Regions from separate parts of the Homo sapiens genome. Here region 2 is linked to region 1. Evidence: fine-mapped expression QTL. A gene starts in region 1. The other region holds a variant in brackets. All regions are shown on one strand. Distances are between the middles of the regions. Region 1 holds the start of SPTBN2 (spectrin beta, non-erythrocytic 2). Region 2 holds the start of NPAS4 (neuronal PAS domain protein 4).

Region 1 (9,442 bases):
GAGCGCAGAGAATAAGAAAAGGCCTAGACAAAACACCACCATCAATAACAAAATTAAGCGACAAGCAGAAAAGGAACTCACAAAAGAAACAGAGAAGGACCACAAGGGTTGAAGGAAAACCAAGAGAATGGCAACCCCATAACAAAAGAAGAAAATTTCAAGAAGCAGGGCATAATTAGAGTCAATTGCTGCCAAGAGGAGAAGTAAGACAGCAATTGGAAACTAACAGCTGGATTTTGCAATAGGATAATTTTTTTTTTTTTTTTTTTTTTTGAGACGGAGTCTCTCTCTGTCGCCCAGGCCAGACTGCGGACTGCAGTGGCGCAATCTCGGCTCACTGCAAGCTCTGCTTCCCGGGTTCACGCCATTCTCCTGCCTCAGCCTCCCGAGTAGCTGGGACTACAGGCGCCTGCCACCGCGCCCGGCTAATTTTTTGTATTTTTAGTAGAGACGGGGTTTCACCTTGTTAGCCAGGTGCAATAGGATTATTGACAACCTTGTTGAAAGCAGCTTTAGAGTGGAAGTTCTGTTGCATTGGATTAAGTCAATTGTATCAATGCTCATCTATCCCCTTCAATTACCATCTATTTCTACACTGATGTATTCCAAATGGGTATCTTAAGTCCAGACCTCCCCTTTAAAGTCCACGCCCATATACAATTGACTACTCAATATCTCCACTTGATTGGTTCAAAGATACCTCAAACCTAGGTTCCAAAACCAACAATCTCTCCACCCAAACCTGGTTTTCCTGGAGTATTCCTCATCTCAGCAAATAGTAGCTCCATTATTCCAGTTGCACAACTCATCCTTGACTAACCCTTTTTCCTCACCACCACCCCTGTATCTATCCCATCACCACATCTGGTTAATTCTTTCAACCTGTGCACTCCATCTCCACTGCCAGCAACTGAGTTCAAGCTACCATCTTCTCTGTCACCCTACCCACAGTGGTAGCCTCCTAACTGGTTTCTCACACATCTTTGCACCCCTCCATAGCAACTGGAGTAACCTATTCCCCCCATAGCAGCTACAGTGACCTTTTTAAAATACAAAGTTGATCCTATCACTTCCTTATTTCAACCTTTCAATAGTCTCTCAGGGCTCTAAAGGTGAAAATCAAAATTCTTTAAATAATGACATAAAAAGCTCTGCATGATCTAGCCCTTGCCTATCTCCCCAGTCGCAATTCTCTACACATTCCCTCTTCCCCTCTGTTTTCCCTGCACCCTGGTCTTTTCTCCATTTCTTTTGTATTGTTTTTTTTTTTTTTTTTGGTTGGTTGGTTTTTTGAAAAAGAGTCTCACTCTGTCCCCCAGGCTGGAGTGCAGTGGCACAATCTCAGCTCACTGTAGCCTCCGTCTCCTGGGCTCAAGAGATTGTCCTGCCTCAGCCTCCCGAGTAGCTGGGATTACAGGCACTTGCCACCACGCCCGGCTAATTCTTGTATTTTTAGTAGAGATGAGGTTTCACCATGTTGGCCAGGCTAGTCTCGAACTCCTGACCTCAGGTGATCCACCTGCCTCAGCCTCCCAAAGTGCTGGGATTACAGGCGTGAGCCACCGCGCGCAGCCTCTTTTCTCCATTTTTTTTTTTTTTTTTTTTTGAGAGACAGAGTCTTGCTCTGTTGCCCAGGCTGGAGTGTAGTGGAATGATCTCAGCTCACTGCAACCTCTGCCTCCCGGGTTCAAGCAATTCTCCTGCCTCAGCCTCCCGAGTAGCTGGGATTACAGGCGCATGCCACCACGCCCAGCTAATTTTTTTGTATTTTTAGTAGAAAAGGGGTTTCACTGTGTTAGCCAGGATGGTCTCAATCTCCTGACCTTGTGATCCGCTTACTTTGGCCTCCCAAAGTGCTGGGATTACAAAGTCGTGAGCCACTGCACCCGGCCTCTTTTCTCCATTTCCTATGTACACCATGTGTCCTGCAACATCAGGCCTGTTAGCCATATGCTCTGTGGCTAAGAACATGGGTTCAAGGGTCAGATTGGGTTAAAATCCCAGCTCTACCCTTGCCTGGTTTGATGACCCTGAGTAAGGTACTTAATCTCTCAATGTCTCCATTTCCTCATCTGTGAAATGGGGTTAATACTTACCTCTTGGAGTTGTTATAAAGGATTAAATGAAATGTTATGTGTAAAGTATTAGAAATACAGTTCCACGTTAATGTTAGTAACAGCTATTATTATTCCCCACTCTGTCTGGTTAATGCTTCTCATATTTCAGATCTCAGCTCAGGTGATCTGAGGTTATGACTCTGTTCAGTTCTCTCTTAACATCCTGAACTTTTCATTCATAACACTCATTATACTTTGTGGTTATATATCTGATGGGTTATTTTATTAATGTCTGTCAATCCCACCACAGGCTCTTCCAAGAGAAAACAGACAGTATCCATTTTACTCATCATTATATCCCCAGATCCCAGCACAGTGCCTGGTATATAATTAGCCATATAGTTTTTGCATAAATATTTGATTGAGCAGGGGCGAGGAAGTGAAGCCAATGAGTGCAAATGACTCAGGAAGACTGTGAACATAAAGAGCAAGGGGAATGCATGGAGGGAAGTCGGGGCTTCTTGATTATTTTTTAAGCTGGCAAATGCTTGAGCATGTTTAAATGCTGATGGGAAGGAACCAGCTGAGAGACAGCAGTGAGGGCCGTGAGGCTGCAGAAGGGGATGAGACTTAGCATAGGAGCCAGAAGAATCCATCTTAGGTGAAAAGAGGGACACCTCTTCCCTGGTATTGAAACAAGAACTGAGAATTCGGCTATGTATGTATGTTTGGTGGGCAGAGCCAAAACCTTTCCATGAATCTTGGTAATGTAAGCAGCAAATGTGGATTCACTGAGAAGCTCAACAAACTTGGTGGATATCATTCCATTCGCTTTTGCAACTCAAATAAGAAGGAACCAGATATTTTCTTCATCATTGACTGTACTGGTTCACTACAGAGCAAAATAACAAGTTTCCAAAGCAACCCAGTCACAGAGCTGAGATAGGTGATCTCAGTGTTCTCTTTATTCAATGTGCTTCCTCTCCAAATCGGGAAACAGTATGGGAAATAATACGGTAAAATCATAACGGCTGATACTGATTAAGTGCTTACTATGTGCTGCATATAATTCATTTACCTGCAATAATTCATTTGATGTTCCCCACATTATGGTGCCATTTTACATGTAAGGAAACTGAATCCTAGGGAGGTAACTTGCCCAAGGTCACATAGTCAGTGGGTGGCAGAACTATGTTTTAAACCCAAGGAGTCTGACTCCAAAATCAATGCTTTTAACCATTCTGCTATACTCCCTGTCTAGCAGAGAGGAAAGAACATATTAGGATTCAGAAGACCTGGAGTTTCTACCATGAACTAATTCTGTGAACTTGTACATTCACTTAGGTGTCTGAACATCAGTCTGTTCATCAATAGAATAAGAATGAGAATGTTTATCTTACAAGGCTTCTTGAAGGATTATGAAATGCTGAAAATAGGAAATTATAAAAGATATTATTTTGCTAATCATAAGACTTAATACCCTTGACTTCTAATTGGGTCACGATATTATAGGCTGTCATTGAGACCCTTAGTTCCCGTAACCAGTACAGCAGCAGCAGCTTGGTGGTTCCAGTTCCTTTGGCAGGGCAGCTGATTCTCTAATTTTTTTTTTTTTTTTTGGAGATGGAGTCTCGTTCTTGTTGCCCAGGCTGAAGTGCAGTGGCACAATCTCAGCTCACTGCAACCTCTGCCTCCCGGGTTCAAGCGATTCTCCTGCCTCAGCCTCCTGAGTAGCTGGGATTTCATGCCCACCACCACGCCTGGCTAATTTGTGTATTTTTAGTAGAGAAGGGGTTTCACCATGTTGGCCAGGCTGGTCTTGAACTCCTGACCTCGCGATCCACCTGCCTCGGCCTCCCAAAGTGCTGGGATTACAAGGGTGAGCCACTGCGCCTGGCCATGGGCAGCTGATTCTCATCCCATCAGCTTTAATGTCCCTGACCAAGTGTCCCTGATGACCGTCATGCACAGGTTGGTGCCTCCTTCCCCCGAACCAACCAACACATAATCCTACCTCTGGGAAGAGTTGCAGTTTATGCCCTTGTTTCTTTAATGCCATTGCCTGAAAGAGTGGCTATTAAAAATAATAAATAGCCTCAGGCCTGGCACGGCAGCTCACGTCTGTAATCCCAGCACTTTGGGAGGCTGAGGCAGGCAGATCACCTGAGGTCAGGAGTTCAAGAACAGCCTGGCCAACATGGCAAAACTCTGACTCTACTAAAGATACAAAAATTAGTCGGGCATGGTGGCATGCACCTGTAATCCCAGCTACTCGGGAGGCTGAGGCAGGAAAATTGCTTGAACCCGGGAAGAGGAGGTTGCAGTGAGCCGAGATCAAGCCACTGTACTCCAGCCTGGGTGACAGAGCACGACTCCGTCTCAAAATAATAATAATAATAAATAGCCTCAAATGCAGCTAACTGTGAGGTACACACCAGAGAGCCAGTTCCAGTTTCGTGGTAGAAGCACAGATATCAGAGCTAGGAGAGAACTTCAAAGTAATCTTTCAATGGAACTCCCCAACCCTCCTCCCAACCCATTTTATAGACTAGGAAAACCAAGGCGAGGTAGATGACACCACTAGTTAGGGTTGTCAAAACCATATCTGGAAAGTACTTCAATTGCACATATTTGTTTCAGTATGCATACCTTTTCAGAAAGGAGCAAAATCCTAAATTACCCATAAATCTATTATAAAACCTTAAATCCAATAATTCACTCAAAGCCCATTCTTTGAGTGCCCTTACTTGACCATTTCAGGCATTCCCTGGATAGAAACGGGCCCTCATCTTCAGGGGCAGTACATAACCTAACGGCTCTGTACAAAGCTCACCCTGTTACCACTGGCTCATCTCTGAGCTGAGTTCTCTAATCTGGAAGAACAGCACCTACTTCTCAGAGCTGGAGTGGGGGTGGGAGTGTCACATGAGATGATGCGCTTTTAGCACCCACCTGGCACTCTGTGAGTTTGTCATGATTTGGGCATAATTCCTTCCTCTCCTAAGCAGGCAGCAGTTCACCTTGGTTAAGGACCTTGGACCTTAGACCACTCAGACGCTAACAAACCAAGGAGAAACCCAGCCGTGTCAGGCCTAGAAATGTCTGCCCCCACCCCCACCCCCCTCAAGACGGTGACTAGGCCGGAATTCTCCTGGTTGATAAATGAGAGGAGCTGAGAAGCGCTGAGATGCCTGTTTGGAGCATCTGATCTGTAGAAGACGAATCTTCACTGTGCCATGGAGATGTTCTGGGAGGGAGAGCCGGCCCAGCTGCCTGAAGGAGGACGCGAGAGCGAGGGGACGGGTGAGAGGAATGCTTAGCGGAGACGGACTGGAGGTGCCCGGAGAGGAAAGGGGAACGGAGGCTGGATCTCGGGAAACCTCGTCGGCAGTGTCATTAGAGGAAGGATCGCGTGTCTCGGGGATACGGATTTTGGAGGAAAAGCAGAATAGGGACAAAGGTGAGGTGTCCGAACCGGGGAGATCAAGACCTGTAAGCTGTGGTGGGGGACCCAGGGACCAGCGAGGACGGGAAGGCGGGGTTTTGGGGGGACCCCGCACGGAAGGTGGCTGGGGGTCGGCAGCCGGCCTCGGAGCTGCTGCCGCGTTCGCCCCGAGGCAGGTCAACTACCCCGGGCGGGGAGCGGCGGGGAGCACCGAGAGGGGCCTCGGTTGCCATGGCGCTGGGCGGGGAAGGGGCGACTCGGGCCCCGCCCAGAGCCCCGCGGGGCCGCCGGCTCCAGATGGTCCCGGGCCTCCCGCGGGAGCCGGCGGCCTGCGGCAGGGGGAGGCTATTGTCCTCCTTCCGCGGCGCCGCAGTCCCGCCGCTCGCGCCCGCGCGCCGCCGCCACGCGCCCCGCCGCCGCCCGCCCCGCGCGCCCCCCGCGCCGCCTGCGCCCCGTGACAGCGCCCGCCCGCCGCCCGCCGTGCGCCCGGCCGCTGCCTGCAACCGCCCGTCGCGGCCGGGCTGCAGGCGCGGCAACTACCGGTGCGCCCCCGCCCGCCGCGCCCCCGCCCGCCCGGCCGCGGCTCCGCGCCGAGGTAGGTGCCGGCGCCCCGCCCGCTTTGTCCCGGCCCGCGGGGCGGCGCGCTTTGTCCGGCCGCGTGCGGTCGGCGGGGTCGGGGTCGGGGTCGGGGTCGGGTCCCGGCGGCCGGGGTGAGCCGGGGCGGGAGCAGGCGGGGACGGGACGGAGAGGGTCCCGTGCCAGCCACACAGGTACCGGGATGAGGGCGGTGGGGGCCAAGGCCGAGGGGGGGGGACTCGGGCCTCTCTGGAGCCGGGAGAAGAGTCTGGAACAGTTAGGGCTGACGGACACGTTCGCGGCGAGGCTGGGAGCGGGTCTGACAGCGCCGGCCCCTCGCGTCGCCGGGGCTGCGGGGCGGACGGGCCGGCGCCGGGCCAGGTGCTGGGGGCGCGCTCGGCCGCCTCTGCCCGGCGGACTGCGGGAGCCGGGCTCCCTCCTCCCCGGAGCCGCGTGGGCTCCTCCTCGCCTCTTTGGCAGCTGGCTCCACGCGCTCCCTTCTGTTCCCCCACAGTGTGTGGGAGAGGGGCACGCGGTTGGCTGTGGTGGCCGGAACTGGCCCGGGGAGAAAGCAGACGCTTCGGGCGGCGGGGAAGCGGCCGCGTGCGGCGTTTCTGTGGCCAGGAAGCTGATAGGGCTGTGCGGTCCGCCCCGCACGGAACTACCCAGCAAGGCCTGCTCGCGGGGGTGTTCCGGCTCCGGTGCCACAGTCGTGATTTACCTTCCACTCGCTTGGAACTTTACCCCATTGACCCCAGGACATTGCATGCTTGTGTGAGGTGCAGGTTTGCCCCGGTCTTAACCTGCTACATGTCGTCTGCCCTCCCCCTCTCGGAGCAGCCACAGTTCCAACGCTGGAGAGCCCGGGGGTTTCAGGTATGGGCAGAGGTAGCAACAAACCAGTTTTCCTTGAAGGTGAAGAGGGGCAGAGTGAGTTCCAAATATGTGTCTTAGCTTGAGGTGTGGGGCAACCTCTTGGCTTATTCAGAAAGGCAAAGGATTGGCCGAGGAGAAGATAGGATGGAGTTTACATTCTTCCCTTAGAGAAATTGATGTGACCCCGGGTTGGGGAAGGGAGATAGCAAGGGAGTGAAGAATCTGAATATTTGAATAAATCTGCCATAACTGGAGGATTCTAGAAGAGAAAATAAAATTTCAGTCCCCCTCTTCAGCCCAGTTCCTAACTTCCTCCGAGGGAATTGATCAGGAACACAGTCTGAGAGGTGGGTCGGGGTTTTGCTGTTCCTTCCTTCTGCCCTGGGCCCATCTTTCTCTTGCCTTCCTGGAGGCCCTGAGCTGATTTGTGACTTCTTTTTCGTTTTATCTCTCTGCCAGTCCACCCATTTATACTTAGAAGCAAATAAGATTTGAACTTTGCCAAAGTCCCCATTTCTTCTAATCTATTATTCATCTCACTGTCATTTGTTCAACTCTGCCTTCCCGTGACTTCTCTAGCTCTGCCGTTCTCCTCCCGCATATCTGCGGTTCGCTGTGCTGTTTCTTTCATTACCTGTGGTACCTACTCCATCTTCATCTTCCTCTCCCATCGCCTGAGCTCCTGAGGGGAAGTGATATTTGAGTTTAGTGTGGGGTAGGGCCTGAGCAGACCTAGAAGCTAACCCTGGGTCACACTCACCCCTGAAACTTTGTGTCTTCTCAACACTCATGGCTCCTCTAACCAATTCCAGCTGCTTCTCATCTTTGGACAAGGGTGGCCCTCAAAGTGTGGTCCCCAGACCATTAGCTTCAGTGTCACCCGGGAACAGGTTAGAAATGCACATTCCCAGGTACCACCCCAGAAGTACTGAATCGTAAACTGGGGGATGGGGGGGTGACCTGTGATTTAACAGTCCTCCAGGTTGTTGTGATTCATGGAAGTTTGAGAATCCCCAGACCTGAGCTGTTGAGCTCAACCCTGAAAGTATTCCAGCCCAGGAGCAGGTCTTCTCCAATCCCGTGTTCATTCTTTCCTTGAGCTTCTCTCTAGTCCTAAGAAAGACATTAATTCCATGGCCAAAAAAAATGAATTATAGTCAAGTCATTCAATATCTCTTTATTGAATATCTGTTGTACTGAGTCTGGAAAAACACCAAAACGAGTAAGACAGCCCTTGTCCTCAATGAGTTAAATGTGGAGCGGGCAGAGAGACACGTAAACAACTAACCGTAATGCGATGTGATAAGTACAATACTAGCTGCATGCCGAAGTGCCCTGGAAGCACAGAGGAGGGAATGATCAACTCTGAGGGAGGGAAATAATTCATCAGGAGCAGGATGTGGTGAGAGGAAGAATTAGGATACAAGGCAGCCTGTAGCCCAGGGTATAGGATTTCTAGCTTAACATGTCAGCTGAAAGAGAGGAAAACTGCCCTGGAGGATCGGCACGGTGAGCCTAGTCTGCCTCCAGCAGCGCCTGGAGTACATTCCAGCAGGACCCCAAGCCTGCAGCCGGCGGGGGTTGGCATTCTTCTAGCACTAACAGTGTAAGCTACTTGGGCCTGGCCTTGAGGTCAATTGCTAAGAATAAGGTATGATGAGACTGTAATCTGGATTAGCTACTGCACCACCCTATTGCCAGACTTCAGGAATCTGTGGAAGAGAGGACGATTGAGGATTCTCCAGCTTCCTCATGACAGGGGGTCATGAAGCTGGGGGGCTGCTGGCCGACTGAGGAAATGTGAGCATGGAGACCCTGGTCATAGGTGAGGAATGATCTACTCAGTGGCAAGAAACCAGCGCTGGATATGTGTAGGAGAAAAGCAAATAGAAATCAGTGGGAATCTAGAGATGGCAGCAGGGGACACAAGCTGAGAACACAGCATATTGTCCAAAAGGCCAGGGAGCTACAGAGCCAGAATGCTTGGAAACCAAGACCTAGAGACACAAAGGTAGCAGAGCCTCAGAGCCACATGCTGAACAATGCCAGAGAGCACCATTCACATGGAAGGCTGTGGAGTTGCAACATGGTGGCCCTGTGGGGGTCTGTGATCTAAGGACACCAGTGCCAGCTTGGTTCCTGATCCATATCACAGCATTTCTGGAAACTCAGAACACACAGCATGCATGCTTCAAATTCAATTTGGAGAGAGGAGCATTTAAGTGGCTGAGGTTTTATTTGGGGGAAGAGGAGGTTCTAGCTCCATACTTTCTCCTGGTAATGGTAGGAATCCGCAGAGACATTCTAACAGTTGGACTTCCCTGGAGGGTCTGGCTCCCAGTTGGGCCCCTTTGTAACTTTAACAAAACCCCCAATTCTGCATTTCTCCTGAGCCCTACTTCCTACCACCAGGGCTGTGGTCTTGGCAGTCTCTGGTTCTGGAAAGGAAGGAGGTATGGAGAAGAGAGAAGTGATGGGTGGTGAGACT
Region 2 (9,442 bases), 300 kb after region 1:
GACCTCAGTCTTTGTGACTCCAAAACTTCAGCCCTTTCTCATACCTTTTTGCTCCCAGGGCAGCAACCTGGTGTTGGTGGCAAGGGTGCTTGAGAGTCAGATTTGGCTTCTGCAGCCACTTTGGAAGTGCCATTGGGCAATTCCTTTCTTCTCTCTGGGCCTCAGTTTACCCATCTATTCTAAGATGCAATATTGTTGATGCTCTGAGCCACAGGGACCGTGCCAGGGAAGGGAACAGAAGCAGATGGTTCTATGTCCAGCAGGGGGCGCAATGGGCTCGCTCAACTTCTTTCTCCGCATGGGTCGACGGCCTGGCTCTCCAGTTCTGAGTGTCAGGGTGCCTTCTTGTCCACACACACTCTACCATCTCCTGTCACTGCCACCAAATACCAGGGAGGGGTTTCTTTTTTTCTTCCATAATTTTTACCTTTTAAAGTTGTGGGGCGGCTGGGCATGGTGGCTCACGCCTGTAATCCCAGCACTTTAGGAGGCTGAAGCTGGTAGATCACGAGGTCAAGAGATTGAGAGAAGCTTGGCCAACATGGTGAAACCCCGTCTCTACTAAAAATAGAAAAATTAGCCAGGCGTGGTGTCATGCGCCTGGAATCCCAGCTACCCAGGAGGCTGAGGCAGGAGAATCGCTGGAACCCGGGAGGCAGAGGCTGTAGTGAGCCGAGATCGTGCCACTGCACTCCAGCCTGGGCAACAGAGCAAGACTCCATATCAAAAAATAAAAAATAAAAAAAGTTATGGGGCTTTTTTGTTTTGTTTTTTTTTTTGTTTTTTGAGACAGAGTCTCACTCTGTCACCCAGGCTGGAGTGCAATGGCATGATCTCAGCTCACTGCAACCTCCGCCTAATGGGTTCAAGTGATTCTCTTGCCTCAGCCTCCCGAGTAGCTGGGATTACAGGCTCACGCCACCATGCCCGGCTAATTTTTGTATTTTTAGTGGAGACGGGGTTTCACCATGTTGGCCAGGCTGCTATCGAACTCCTGACCTCAGGTGATCCACACACCTCGGCCTCCCAAAATCCTGGGATTACAGGCTTGAGCCACCGTGCCTGGCCTATTATAGATTTAGACTTAGAGAAAAGTTTTGAAGATCCTACAAAGTTCCCACAGACCCCACAGCCATTTCCACCTGTTACCAACATCTTACACTTACATGATACATTTGTCACAATTAATGAGTCAATGTTGATACAGTATTATCAACTGAAGTCCATACTTTATTCAGACTTCCTCATTACCTTGCATCCTTTTTCTGCTCTAGTATATTACATTCTATTTCATCATTATGTTTCCTTAGGTTTCTCAGATTTTCCTTTTTGTTTTGTTTTTGTGGCAGGGTCTTGCTCTGTTGCCCAGGCTGGAGTGCAGTGATGTGACCATAGCTCATTGCAGTCTCTAACTCCTGGGCTTAAGCAATCCTCCCACTTCAACCTCTCAAGTAGACGGAACTACAGGTGCATGCCACCACGCCCAGCTAATTTTTGTTTGTAGAGATTGGGTCTTGCTTTGTTGCCCAGGCTGGTATTGAACTCATGGGCTCAGGCCGTCCTCCCACCTCGTCCTCCCAAAATTCTGGGATTATAGGCATGAGCTGCCACAATTGTGTGGCCAGACTTTCCTTTTTTTTTTTTTTTAATGACCCCAGGGAGGTTTTTATATGGGACTCCAATGCATGTCTTGAGCTCATGGTCACTTAAGATTCCCTCTGGGGAACTTAGGAACACATTTTTACAGTAGAAACTGATGAGTCTAATGAAACCCTTTGACTGAACTTCAGAAGTGTCCTCTCAGCCATGTGCACCTGCAATCCCAGTATTTTGGGAGGATGAGGCAGGAGGATCACTTGAGCCCAGGAGTTTGAGTCCAGCAATATAGTGAACATTGCCAACAAAGAAAGAAAGAAAGAGAGAAAGAGAGAAAGAGAGAAAGATTCCTTTCAAGAAGACATTTTGAGTGTGTCTGTTATGTGCCAGTCCTGTGCTCCATGCCAGGGTCCTCCTGGGGCTGACAATCCAGTTATTTTGTCCAAGTTGGAGAACAGATGCACAAGGAAGGCAGAGGGCAAAACTCCACCCTCCTTTTCCACCCAAGGACCCATCCAAGTTGGAAAAATAGTGACAGGTCCCTAGGAGTGTCTTCCTTCCCATGGGACTGTCTGAAGGGCATGGCCCCAGAGCTGGAGGATTTGGAATAAAAGGAGGCTTAGGGGCTTTCTCAGGTTGTGCCCTCAGTTCCTGGAACCCAGCCTCTGTACTTCACTGGGGAAGCCTTTGAGGTCACCGTTGCCTTCTAATTCAATTGAATAACTTAAGTCAATTCTGTGCTTCTCTGCTTATAAATGGACACTATCAAGTTCTAACAGCATCTTTGGGAGATAAGTACCATGTTTGTCAGCCCTGCTTCACTTGTGGAGAAACTGAGCCTCAAGTCCCATTTGGCAAATAATTGGTGGAGATGAGATTTGAATCCAGGGTTCGCTCTGTCGCCTAGGCTGGAGTACAGTGGTGCAGTCTTGGCTCACTGCAACCTCCACCTCCCAGGCTCAAGAGATTCTCCAGCCTCAGGCTCTCATGTAGCTGGGACTACAAGTGTGCACCACACCCAGATAATTTTTGTATTTTTTGTAAAGATGGGATTTCACCATGTTTCCCAGGCTGATCTCAAACTCCTGGGCTCAAGCAATCCTCCTGCCTTGTCCTCCCAAGGTGCTGGGATTACAGGCGTGACCCACTGTGCCCAGCCCATCTCCTCATTTTCATTTGCCCCTCACCCTACCTTGTGGCTGTTTGGGCTTCAAGCTTGGAGGAAAACAGCATTTTTGGAAACTTTTTTCTCTTGACTTACTGAGTTATATTCTGCTCAGCTCTACTTTACAGACCTGGAGAGCAAAAAGAAGGGGTTTCTCACCCCACACTTGGGAGAGAGGACCCTGCTCCAGCCCACATTTGCCCTTCTTGAGTAATCTGGGATGAGATGATTTGGGATGGGTGGTGATTCACTGGCTCTGCCAGCAGAGAAAACAGCCCAGGGCTGGGATGCAGATGCTCTGGGTATGTTGCCCATCCACCCATGCCTGTCATCAATTGTGGGAACAAATAACTTTTTACCTGTGGTCCTCAGTTTCTTCATCAGTGAGATGGGCTAATATGCCTGCCCAGAAGAATTGTTGCAGCAAATAAGAGAGGTAAAAGTGTGTGTCAGCTGAAAGCCCTGTGCAAGGATAACAGACGTGGTTATAATTTCCAGTGAGTCGATCCAGGGCCCCACAAGGAAGTTGCTTCCCTGAAGGACCAGGTGAAGAAAGAACTTGTGAGCAGAAGCTTCAAACCCATGCCCAGACCCAACATCAAATTGAATCCTCATGTCCACTCCTAGGCCCTCTGTCCCCTCCCACACCACGAGCACTGCAAGCCTGGCGCAGAGAGGAGATGCCAGTATTCTCTAGTACTGGACGCCAAGCACCTTGAGGGCAAGACATAACATCTGTTTCAGCCCTAAACTTTCCAGCTTCTAGCACAGTATGGGCCACACAATGTACATGTGGACGTTGAGTGAAAGAATGAATGAATGAGTGAATGAATGAATGAATTCACAAGTGGATGAAGAAATGCTGGGGCCATAAACAGGTCCAGCTTTTACCTCCTGGCCCCCAGGCTCCCATCCAAGCCTCCCAAACTTATCCTCCACCCTTCCTTTTACACAGCAGCGCATGACACCAGAGGTACCAAAAAGGCAAACTGGACTTTATTATAAAGTTGGCTACAAAGTCACCGCAGCACCACGAGGTGGCCATCTGGGCAGGCCCAGGCAGTCTGGCGGCCGGGTGAGTCCCGCACCAGGTACACGCACTCGTGCAAGCACACGTGTGACGGCAGGTCTGCCTTCCTCCATCGGAAAGGAACGTAGCGTCTCTTCGCACCCCCCACCCCAGGCGCGGGGCGCAAAAGTCACAGGAAGGGCCGCCAGGGCGGCAGAGTCCATCGGAATTGAAATCCCGTTACTGGTGTGTAGAGAATTCTACGTGGGTGTCAAGAGCCCCTCAGGGCACGGGCTGGCCCGGGTGGGCCCTGCCTTTCCCCCACCAAGGCTAGGGGTGGCTTGGCCCCTAGGAGTGGAGAACTGGCCCAGGCCAATGGGGCAAGGCGGCGGGGAAGTGAGACTCCCCCATTCTCCGCTTGAAATCCCATTCAAGGAAACTCACTACGAGTGAATACAGATTGAAATGGAAACTGGGATCGCTCGAAGTCTCTTGATTTTAAAAAGAAGCTCCCCTCCCTTGCCCTCCCACCTCCCCCCCCCCAAAATCCTGCAGGGCCTGGGGAATCATATATATCCCCCTCTGGCCCTCAGAATCCCCCCAACAGTCCCGGGGGGGTGGAGAGCGGCTCCACGTCTTGATGACAATATGCCATACTTGACGACGTTAAGTCACAGACTTATTCAAAACGTTGGTTCCCCTCCACTTCCATCTGCAGAGAGATAGATAGAGAGAACACAATCAGTTAGACCAATTAGCACAGAGGATCCTGGGGCTGAGAATGTGTTGGTATTAGTATAGGCTTCAAAGATATTGGCTCAATGATGAAATGATGGCCAGAGGCTCAGTAGATTAGGGGGCAATTTGGATGGA[C/T]GGAGTGAAACTGTGGCTGTAGTTTAGGAAGGATGGGGCTGTAACCAGGGAGCTACCTCAATGGAGTCAGGGGCTGAGCCTCGTCTTTCTTTTACCAACTTGCATAAATTCTTGCTCTGTATCCCCTTCAGGGAGCTAGGATACTAGGATAGAGCTCTAGTCCCTCTTCCATCAGTTTGTTGTGCACCCTAAGGAAAGTCTGTTTAACTCTGGGACCTTGATTATTTTCATCTGTAAAATGGGGTGCTGAAGACTGATCTAGGCCTCTCATGGAGTTAAGCACAAGCCCTTACTTAAGAATTCCCTAGCACTCTATCCCACAGCCCCAACCCCTGCCAAGTCTGCTTGTTCAAACTTTCATATTAAGTCTTTCATTTTTTCTTATCTCCACTGCTACTCTCTTCAGCAGGGGATGTCATCCCCTTAATAAAATCAATGTACAGAGAGGGGGAATTGATTTGCCTAAATCTACCCAGCATTTCATTGGCAGGACAGGGACTTGAGTTCTTGGACCTTTTGGCTGACTCACCTTCATGGAAGCTGTCTTGAACTTGGCTCTGGAGTTGATGCAACTCATCAGTAAACCCATCATAGGGGAATGCTGAGACACCTGTCTCAAAGGCGGTTTCATATGTGGCCAGGTCCTCCAGGAAGCTGTGGTCTTCTGGGGACAGGTTGTTGCAAGGCGATGGGGCCCCTCCTGGGCCCTCTGCCTCAGGATCCCCTGAGCCCCATTCCTCACTGGGATCTGGGGTAGAGAGATCCATGAAGATGTCTTCCACGGGCGTCTCTTCCAGGAACATGTTATCAGGGTCAGCCAGGAAGTCCAGCTCCTGGCATTTCCAGGGTTTCAGGTCCAGGCTGAGCACAGGGGGGCCTGCCCCTGACAGGGACAGGTTGGAGTCCAGGGGCTCCAGTCCTCCAAGTGGCTCTAGTCCGCCAGTGCCAGCCTCAGCTGAGAAGGGTCTGTCCATGCCCTGAGCCAATTGGCTAATCTGCTGGATGAGACGGTCTATCTCATTCTGCTCCTTTTCAGAGTAGTGGAAGAAACTCTGCTTGACTGGAGAGGCCTCAGGTGTGAGCAGGCCTTCGGGCACCAGGGGGACATCCACAGAGAGGGGGCCCCGGAGCTGGGCTAGGGCCAAGAGCGTGCAGTCCCCATTACCAGGGCTGCTAGGACTTGGGGGCAACTTCTCATAGAGAAAACTGCATCCCTCCTGGGCAAAGTAAGTCTTGGTAGGGTTGGGGCTCAGTTGCTCTGGGAAGGTTTGGCTGGGGCTGTCCAGGTGTGCTTGGAATGCTGTGCTGGGAGGAGTCAGCTGTTCATGGGCAGGGCTGCCCAGAGGCTCTGGGAAGGTGGCTGTGCTGGGAAGCAGCTGGTCTGGGAAGGTGGAGGTGCAGGGAGTCAACTGGTCTTCATAGCTTCTGACCGAGGTTTCAGTCAACTGGCCTTGCAGTGGGCTAGTTAGTGGATCTGGGAAGGTTGCACTGCTGGGCGTCAACTGATCAGAGAAGGTCGCAGTGCTTGGAGTCAGCTGTTCTTGAAGAGTGCTGGATGGGGTGGGCAAATGGGTCTGGAAGGGCTCATGGAGGCTGAAGAGGAAGGCACAGCCTCCTGGCTGATGGGGCGTGTAAGGTGGAGTGCACACAAGATCCTTGCTTAGTTCTGCTTGGAGAGAAGGCTCAGGCCCAGAAGGGAATGTCAGGTAACTGAAGTCCAGTTCTTTGGAGGGTCGGGGAAGCTCTTCTGATGCAGAGACAACACTCAGTTCAGGAGCACTGGGGAAGCTGGTGCTTCTGGGAGCCCCCAGTGCTGCGGTGAAGAGTGGGTTAGTGCTGGAGCACTCTTCCTGGGAAAGAATGTTTTCAGGGAATGAGGGCAGCATGGTCGGAGTGCCCAGGACATAAGCTGCCTGGGTGTCTTCAGAGTTCAACTGCTGGCGGAGGCTCCAGGCTTCCATGTCACTGGAGAGGAGAGAAGAGGCAGCTGGTAAGGGTCCGACGTCCATATCCAGAGCAGTTCCCTGATTTGTGTCTCCTCCATGACGACCTCAGCTGCCCCCTAGTCCCCTGGCTTGTGGCTTACCTGATTGGGTAGTTATTGGCAGTAATGGGTCCCTCTGGACCTTCTGAGTATAACAGGCAGTAAATCCATGCCCAGCCTCCAGTCTTGGCCTGTAGCCTCACCACCATCTCTGCCTGAATATCTCCACTCTCAGCCACTGGGGAGAAAGAAGATGCAGAGTTAGGATGTCCACCAGGCAATTCTACCTACTCCCCACCCTTGGTCACCTCTCCACTGAATTGAGATAGCCGTGACATCCTCTCTTCTGACTACCCTCACCTGAACCACTCAGCTCTCTACCTTGACCTCACCACTCAGAGTCCCCCAGTTCTGATTTGATTATTGCCTTGAATCCTCACCTTCATGTTCACCCTATAGCATCCGAAACTGTTGGCCTCTGTTATCTCCCCAGCATCACTCTTGACTACAGATCATTCTTTGTCTGGTCTCCCATGCCCTTTCCCAGCTTGCTATCTTGTCCCCAGCCTCTCTGGACACTCACACAGGCGGTAGTGTTGAGCAGAAGCGTGGGCCAGGTCCTCGGGGTGCAGCAGTCCATACCATGATTTACAAAGCAGTTCACTGCGCTCAAAGCCCAGGTAGATTAGGACACTGGGAAGGTGGAAAGGGTGAGGTCAGCTTTCTGTTTTCCTTGCTTGATACCCATGCATCTCACTCCCTCCCAGATCCTCTGCCCCCCTAAACCCCATCCTCCCTGCCCCTGACTCCAGAATCTAGGGTCCCTTCATCTCTGGCCTGCCTTTCTCTTGGAATCTGAACACTCCAGGCTTACCTCTCGGAGATGTCCAGTAGAGCCAGGTCTTTAGCATGGCGGCTCTGGAACATGGCCAGGAAGAGCGAGGCAGGGCCAGGGCCAGGGCCAGGACCTGGGCGGGGTCTCGGCTCCAGAGGGGCACAGAAAGCTGTGAACACGGGATTTCCTGCCCAGTAGGCTCCAGGTGGGTGAGCATGGAATCGGCCTCGAATAAGCACGAGTTTGTTGCCTGCACTCTGGCGCCTGAGGGACTTGGAGGTGTTGAAGCGGCAGCGGAAGAGGCGATCTAGATAGATGAAGAGAAAAACAGATAAGAGGGTGAGTGGCTGAGAGAGAGACAGTGGATGGTGGGGAGAAGGGCAGCAGGTGGGAAATTGGACCGAGGAAGGGAGAAGGGAGTCCTTACCAGTGTCCAGGGCAGAGGGCAGGGTGAGTTGCTGGCGCACAGTGAGGTGGTCAGCTGGGTCAATGATGTCGTAGATGCTGTCACCCTGGGCAACCAGGTCCACCTGGAGGGAGGAAAAGAAGAGATGACCATTAGGGAGAACAGCAGGAGCCAATCTTTGATCTACAGTATCTTGTAGGGTATAACCTCTCCCTCCATAGTAATTCCCAGTTCCTCAGGAGTGGAAGGCTCACGGCACCCACTCCATGCCCAGCCTCAGCTGAAAGGACCCTTAGCACTCACCATGGAGTGGCCCAGATGCTCGCTCACACTCTCAGACAGGTAGAGCAATTTCCCCTCGGCTGTGAACACAAGCAGAAAGCCGGGTAGTGCCGCTACGATGTCCTCAAGCTCTTGAGCTGAGAGAAGCCCCGTGGGGCCCGCCAGAGGAGTGCCTGTAGGGCGAGAAGACGTAGTGCGTCAGGAGTAAGACTGGGAGGCAGAGAAGAAGTGAGGAAGGCATGGTCTGAGTTTCAGAGAATCCAGAGGAATTTCTCATGGACCTGCCTCTGCAAACACCTGTTGACCCGCTGCCCGCAGCTCTTGGCCAGGGAACCTGTTGCTGTATCTCCATAGCCCACAAGCCCTCGACTTCTAAAGCGGGGTCGGCTCCTCTCGGCTCTTAATTTCAGAACCGCGGACAGAGCTCCAAAGCGGCTCTGAATTTCAGAACCGCGGACAGAGCTCCGAAGCCGACTGTGGGTTCAGAACCATGGACAGAGCCATACACGGCCGGCGCAGCCGTCAGCACCATGGGCAGCGCCCCGAAGGCGACAGGAGATCCCTTTCAGCACCGCGGACAGTAGCTATGTTCCCCTAGGCTCAGGCAGCTCCATCCCTGCAACTTCCCGGGCTTCCCTCCCCGGCTCCCGGAGCGCTTCTGCACTGGCGGGCACCGAGGCCGCTCTGTCCTGGCTCTTATCCTCTCATAATCTGGTGTTAGGGACACCGTCCAGGCTCTCTAACTCTCATTCAGAACTAAGGTGAGGTCTGGAGGGAGCTCAGGAGGAAAAGTAGAAAGTCCCGAATCTCCCGAGTCCCGAATCTCCCCAGCTCGCCAGCACGCTGCCCTAGACATGCGACAGCCCCAGCGGGTTCCCTCAGCTCCAGGGTCTCCGGCGCCTGGCAGCTCGGATCTGCGGTAGCCCCAGCATGCTCACCACCAGCGAAGAAGACGCCCTTGCGAGTGTAGATGCAGGCGAGGCTCATGATGTGCAGGTAGGACAGCCGGACCTTGTCCGCTTCGGCCAGCGGCAGCAGCTCCTTGAGGTTCCGGATCTCGGCGTTGATCTGGTCCCGGCGCGCCTTGGAGGCGCCCTTGGTGGAGCGGTACATGACCGGCGGCTGCGGAGCTCCAGCTCGGGTGCCCGAGCACCTGCGCTCCCGTCCCGACGCACCGGCGGCTTCCTCCTCCGTGCTTCCCCGTCTCTCGCTCAGGCTCGCTCTCTGCTCTCCTGGGCTCCGCTCGGCTGCGCTGCCCCCCTCGCCTGCCTCACGCCGCCTTATATAGCTCC

Evidence for each region. PIP is the estimated chance that this variant, and not a neighbour inherited with it, causes the effect.
Region 2: its variant is the best candidate, but not a certain one, in a credible set for the expression of SPTBN2 in lung (TOPMed, PIP 0.53).

The regions. Positions count from the first base shown.
Region 1 is chr11:66,724,816-66,734,257 of GRCh38, reverse strand. It overlaps SPTBN2 (spectrin beta, non-erythrocytic 2), which reads left to right and starts at 5,042. Exons shown (of 38, transcript NM_006946.4): 1 at 5,042-5,517.
Region 2 is chr11:66,421,001-66,430,442 of GRCh38, reverse strand. NPAS4 (neuronal PAS domain protein 4) reads right to left here and starts at 9,408. Exons shown (of 8, transcript NM_178864.4): 1 at 9,089-9,408; 2 at 8,172-8,323; 3 at 7,890-7,992; 4 at 7,502-7,769; 5 at 7,211-7,320; 6 at 6,730-6,865; 7 at 5,173-6,608; 8 at 3,736-4,482. The coding sequence starts at 9,263. The coding sequence ends at 4,454. RefSeq lists silencers at 8,531-8,825, 8,519-8,833 and an enhancer at 8,766-9,362. The variant C/T (reference allele first, on the strand shown) is at 4,644.